2 separate regions of the Homo sapiens genome follow, and region 1 is linked to region 2. Evidence: fine-mapped expression QTL. Tissue or cell type: whole blood. Region 2 holds a variant in brackets; the other region holds the start of a gene. Each region is shown on its reference strand, or each on the opposite one.

The links. PIP is the estimated chance that this variant, and not a neighbour inherited with it, causes the effect.
Region 1: NFIX starts here. The variant in region 2 is fine-mapped to the expression of NFIX in whole blood (TOPMed, PIP above 0.99).

Annotation. Positions count from the first base shown.
Region 1 is chr19:12,994,240-12,997,147 of GRCh38, reverse strand. NFIX (nuclear factor I X) reads right to left here and starts at 1,673. Exons shown (of 11, transcript NM_001365902.3): 1 at 1,284-1,673. The coding sequence starts at 1,310. RefSeq lists an enhancer at 804-1,392 and a silencer at 1,567-1,726.
Region 2 is chr7:33,040,575-33,043,482 of GRCh38, reverse strand. All of the region lies in intron 1 of NT5C3A (5'-nucleotidase, cytosolic IIIA), which reads left to right. Among named protein-coding and RNA genes, the nearest start is that of NT5C3A, 21 kb to the left of the region's middle. RefSeq lists a silencer at 2,456-2,555. The variant T/C (reference allele first, on the strand shown) is at 1,581.

The DNA of each region.
Region 1 (2,908 bases), not on the chromosome of region 2:
GGACTGCCACTGTAAGCTGTGGACACACTTGGCACATGGCTGACAAGGATCAGGCTGGGCAGAGGGGACAATTAGGGCCTGGCCTAGAGAACCCCCACATGCAGGCCTGGCTGGCAGCAGGGCTAAGCAGCCCCTAGATGTCCCCTCTTCGGAGACTGTTACCAGCTGTGGCTTGGCCCTGCAGGCAACGCTGTCAGGGCCACTGTGGGACTCTGGGCAGCTTCTGTGCCCTCTTAGAGCCTCAGGCCACAGCCCAGGGAGAGTTGGGTGGCCCGACAGGCATCCTCGAAGCTTTTGCCGCAGCCGTGCGCCGCGCAGGGAACTTCGCTGCAGGCGGGACGCGCTCTAGCAACGCGCCAAGGTCGGCGCTGTTGTGCCCGAGGCTGACCCGACGGTGTGGCCGCAGCACTGTCGGCTGTGTCCACGGCTGCCTCCCGCCCCTCCCGCCTCCAGGCGACGGGACGGGATTCCCCAGGCCTGCCGGGTCCACTCCGCAGCAGCCCGGGTCGCTGGGGCCAGAAAGTTTGCGCCGAGGAAAGTTTGGGGGTGGGGGGGCAGAGGCTGCGACGTCCGGGGTCGGAGAGGCGCGGCCACCGCTGGCAGCGCGCCCGCCCCCCTCTCCCCTCCCCTGCCCCTCCGAAATTTGGGAGCCCCGCCATTTTCTTAGCCCCGCTCCCATGTGAGGCCTAAACAAAGACTTTGGGGAGACGCCCGGGCCGCTCGGCCCACCCCAGGCACCCCGGCCGCACGCAAGGGCCGCCGCCACGCACGCCGGCCACTGCCACCCTCGGGAACCGCTGCGCCCTCCCCAGGAAGCGTCGCGGGACCCAGTGTCCCCTCTGCGCCCTCGGGACCACCCTCTTGCCACTCTGTCAACCCCGCAAACACTGCCAGCGACCACGCTGCCCGGGTGCGCGCTACAGTAGCCCACAGGTCAGCCGGAGTCCCGCTGCCCATCGCACCCCAGTCGAGCGCGCACACACACACACACACACACACACACACGTACACGCACTCCCGCCTGCGCTCCACGGGCAGCGCCACGACGCAGCTGGCCACCCCCGGAACCCCCAAAAGGAGTCCGCCCGGTGGCCAGGGTCGCACGCGCACGGTGACGCCCGCACGCGTGCCTGGGCTCCCCGCGGCACAGCCTGCACCCCTCGGCGGCCCGCGGGCTCTCGGCCCCCCCTTCCCGGCCGCCGCGCGTCCCCTCCGCCCGCGCCGCCGGCCGGCCTCCCGCGCCCGCTCCCCTCCCCCGGTCGCGCGGGGGCGGCGGCCGGTACCTGGGTGAGGCAGTACGGGGAGTACATAGCTGGGCGCCCGGGCGGGAGCGCGGCGGCCGGCCGCGGCGAGGGGAGGCCCGGCAGGCGGCGGCCGCGCTCGGGCTCGGGCTCCGGCTCGGCTCCTCCGGCCTCCGCCGCGCTGCGCCCGCCCGGCCCGCGGCCCCGCGCTCGGCCCGGCGCCGCTCCGCGCTCGCCGCTCGCAAGCTCGGCCCCGCCGGCTCCGGGGCCGCCGCTGCCGCCGCCGCCGCCGCGCTCGCCGCTGCCTCTCGCGTCCGCCGCCGCCGCCGCTGCCGCCGCGCGTCTACTCCATGCCGCCGCCGCTCGGCCGGTCACCCTCGCCCGCCGCCGCCGCCGCCGCAGCCGCCGCGCTGTGAAAGTGAAAGTTTAGACAAAGTTTGGAAGCGGCGCACTCCGGGGAGAGGGAGCGGGCGGGCGGCGCGGGCGGGAGGAGGGGCGCGGGGAGGGGCGGGCAGGGCGGGGGAGCGGCGGCCGGCGCACACACACAAGCACACACATGCACACACACACACGAACACACGCACACGCGCGCGCGGGGGCGCACACCGACGCGGCCGCCCTGACACGTGCTGGCCCGCGTTCCAGCGCAGACACACGCTGACACGCAGCGGGACTCGGACCCCGCCACACATGTCACGTCCAGAACGCCTGGCCACACGTTCCGCCTTCGAACACAAAGCACACTCGGACACCAGTGCACACAAGGCACAGACACACAACCCCTACACACGGGCACACACACACAGCAGTCTGGGAAAACACCCACGACCCACGCTCTGACATGCACCGTCCCACCATGGTATCCAGGCACACAACAAGGAACCGCGTATAGACATACACCAAAGCAGGCGTCACGTAGACACACACTGATATACACGAAGACACACCAGTGCATGACACATAGAGATGCACACTGATGCACACACACTGACGCATGTTCCTGCAGAACACAGACACATGCAAGATCACACAGCCACACGCTGACACCTTCCAGACACACAATTCCTACACGCAGACACATACACAACACACACACATCGCAGTGCCAGAACACACTGGCAGTTGTGGCAGTACACCCCGATGTACAGAATGACACTGATGATTGAGAGGCCGAGGCCAGTGGATTGCTTGAGCTCAGGAGTTCAAGACCAGCCTGGACAACATGGCAAAACCCCTCTCTACCAAAAATACAAAAATTAGCTGGGTGTGGTGGTGGATGCCTGTGGTCCCAGCTACTTAGGAGGCTGAAGTGGGGGGATCCCTTGAGCCCGGGGAGGTCAAGGGTGCAGTGAGCCATGATAGTGCCATTGCACTCCAACCTGGGTGACAGAGCAAGACCCTGTCTGAAAAAAAATAACTAAATAAATAAGATGACACTAATGAAGGGAAGATACACAATGTCACATAAACACACACCAAACACCTGGAAGTGAATGCAAAGGACCCCAATACAAAGAGATACACAGCGTCACAGATACAAAGCAACACTGGCTGTCACAACACAACACACAGACACACACACACACACACACACTGGGTTGCCCAGATGTACCCACAGGCCTTGGACACACTGACCAACTGATGCCCAGGCGGCTGACAACCCCCCT
Region 2 (2,908 bases):
ATGTTGACTGGGTTTTTAACTTTATTTTCTGATTATGGACATGATGGGTGCTACTCCTATGACGTTTTTAACACGCTATTTAAATTTCCCAAGGAGCACATTTATTTTCTAAAACTCAGGTTGTAAAAATGGCCCCTTAATGTCATTACAAATACTGTCTTATGTATTCTATTTTAAACTTTCCTATACTTGTATAAAGATTTTTCCTTCTCAAATTGGACTCTTGCTGTAGATATTATAACTTTTTTCAATCAGTAGTAGACCATATGTCTGTAAATACTCAGCTCATGGAGCAGTACTGTGCAGTGATCTGAAACATGGATTCTGAAGTTAGAGAGAACTGAGTTAGAATCCATTTCTGCCGCTTATCAAGTATAAGGCTTAATTTGCCCACCAGTAAATTGAAAATAATACTAGCACATACCTTCTAGGGTTGTTTATAAGTATTATATGAGACAAGGAATGTCAAGTGCTTAGAGGCATCTGGCACATAGTAAACACAATACATTTTAGCTATTCATAATAATCATTTTTAAGAGCAGTATAATTTTATATTTTCTGTATGTATCACAGCTTATTCACCTCTTCTGTATTAGTGAACATTTGAATATTGGCCATTTAGGTTGTTTCAAGTTTCCCAGAATTATAAAACAAATTTGCAGTATACGTCCTGGCAGCTAAAGTTTTGTGTACTGCCTAATTTCTTTAGGAAAAATTTCTAGACACAAAATTGATGTGTCAAAGGGAATGTATATTTCTAATGCTTTTAATAGTATTTCTAAATTGCACTCCAAAAAGATTGTAGAACTATCATTTCAATATTCTTGGTTGTTGAAAGTGATCTGTGAATCATCTTTCAAAGTGATGTATTTTAAATTCTTACCATTGTCAACTCTAATAATATTAAAGTACATTTAAGTCATCATTTTCATACATAATACAGAAATATTTTAGAAATGGAGCCCTTTGTGGCCCTTGAGTCTTCATTACTGATTAGAGATAATAGGCTGTCCTCTTAGAGGAGTGTTTCATTATGAATTTTATTATTTTATTTAAATAAGATAGCAGTGTCAAAGGTTTCACGTTTGGTAGATACAAATTTGGATAGTTTTGTTTTTTGTTTTTTTGGGGTTTTTTTGTTTTTTGTTTTTTTTGAGACAGTTTTGCTCTTGTTGCCTGGGCTGGAGTGCAGTGGCGCAATCTCAGCTCACTGCAACCTCCGCCTCCTGGGTTCAAGTGATTCTCCTACCCTGAGTAGCTGGGATTACAGGTGCCTGCCACCAGGCCCGGCTAATTTTTTGTATTTTTGGTAGAGATGGGGTTTCATCATGTTAGCCAGGTTGGTCTCGAACTCCTGACCTCAGGTGATCCACCCGCCTAGGCTTCCCAAAGTGCAGGGATTACAGGCATGAGCCACCACACCCAGCCTGGATAGTTTTTTAACACCATTTTTAACAGCAATTTAAAATTTTTTTCATGTTGTTTTTAATAGAGAACGATACTTCACAAAATTTGATTACTGAAATATTACTAGACTAGATTTCTCTGAGGACAGTAGAGAGAAAGCCGATAATAAAAAT[T/C]TATTTACATAAGTGTAGTGTAGCCATGTTCCCTAATGATAAAGGTTCCCACAGCCCATGGCATAACTTATCTATCAGGTCCTGACACATGGTATTAGCATATTGCCACCCTACTACTCAGGTTAAAAGCAAGACTAGTTCTCTTTTAAAAAAAAAAATTTTTTTTTCTTCATGACAGTTGGACTGCTCTTATTTTTAACAGGCAGGAACTTTTTCCCCCCATTTTTAAAAACAGAAATTAATTTTTATTTTCAGATTTTATGGCTGGTCTTATTAAAAGTATAAGAAAATATAAAAATTACTTTAAATCCCACTGCCCTTTGATAAAGACTATTAACAGTTTTTTGACCACATTTGCATATATCATGTCTTTTTGTTTATGGACTTTAAGTGAGCTAATCTTTTTTTTAATAGTGGTAAAATATACATAATATAAATCGTACCATTTAAACCATTTTTAAGCATTTCATTTGGTGGCATTAAGTACATCTACACTACCGTGCAACCATAACCACTGTCCACTCCAGAACTCTTTTCATCTTCTAAAACTGAAACTCTATCCATTGAGCAATAATTCCCCATCCTCCTCCTCCAGCCCTGGCAACAGCAACCTAATCTTTTTAACTTTGTATTAAAATAGAATATACAGAAAAGTTCACATATCAGAAGTACACTGACAAACCACTGACAAACCAGGTGGAAAGGAATGTTTTTAAGTGTTAGTGTAGAGGTTCCTCTTTTCTTTCCAGAGCCAGTTGCCAGTTCTAATAGTACAGATTTACCTTCTCTTTAATCGTCACATAACTTCAATTGATAATGTTATGTAGATTGACTTGTGACTAGCTCAGAGCTAGCGAGGCTGTAACCAAGAGCATATATAAAGTACTGTGCAGCAGTGCGTCACAAGGTTTTTGCATAGGGCTTAGTCAAGGCTTTTGGAACCGCCCTCAGTTGCACCTTGTGCTATATTAGTACTTCTCAGACAGGAAGAATTTTCTTTTGCTGGTGTAGCTCGTCCGGTTACCTTCAGGGTAAGTGTGTACGGTTCATGTAAATGAGTTTCTCTTGTCTAACTTTATGTGATTCTTATTTGATTCTATAACTTACTGAAATTTTGGGCATTTTGAAATACAAACTTAGGAAATAAAATAATGTTCCAGTATAATGCAAAACTTCTTTATAATTTGTGAAGAAATGAATGTGCAAAACTTTGAAGAGTCTTAGGTCTCAGAAATTACATTTTATATGTTCTAATTTTAAGAGCTTCTTGTTTCACCTGTAGATGTTGAGAAAAAGCAAAGTACCTTCAGAAGTCTCTTTCCAGGTTG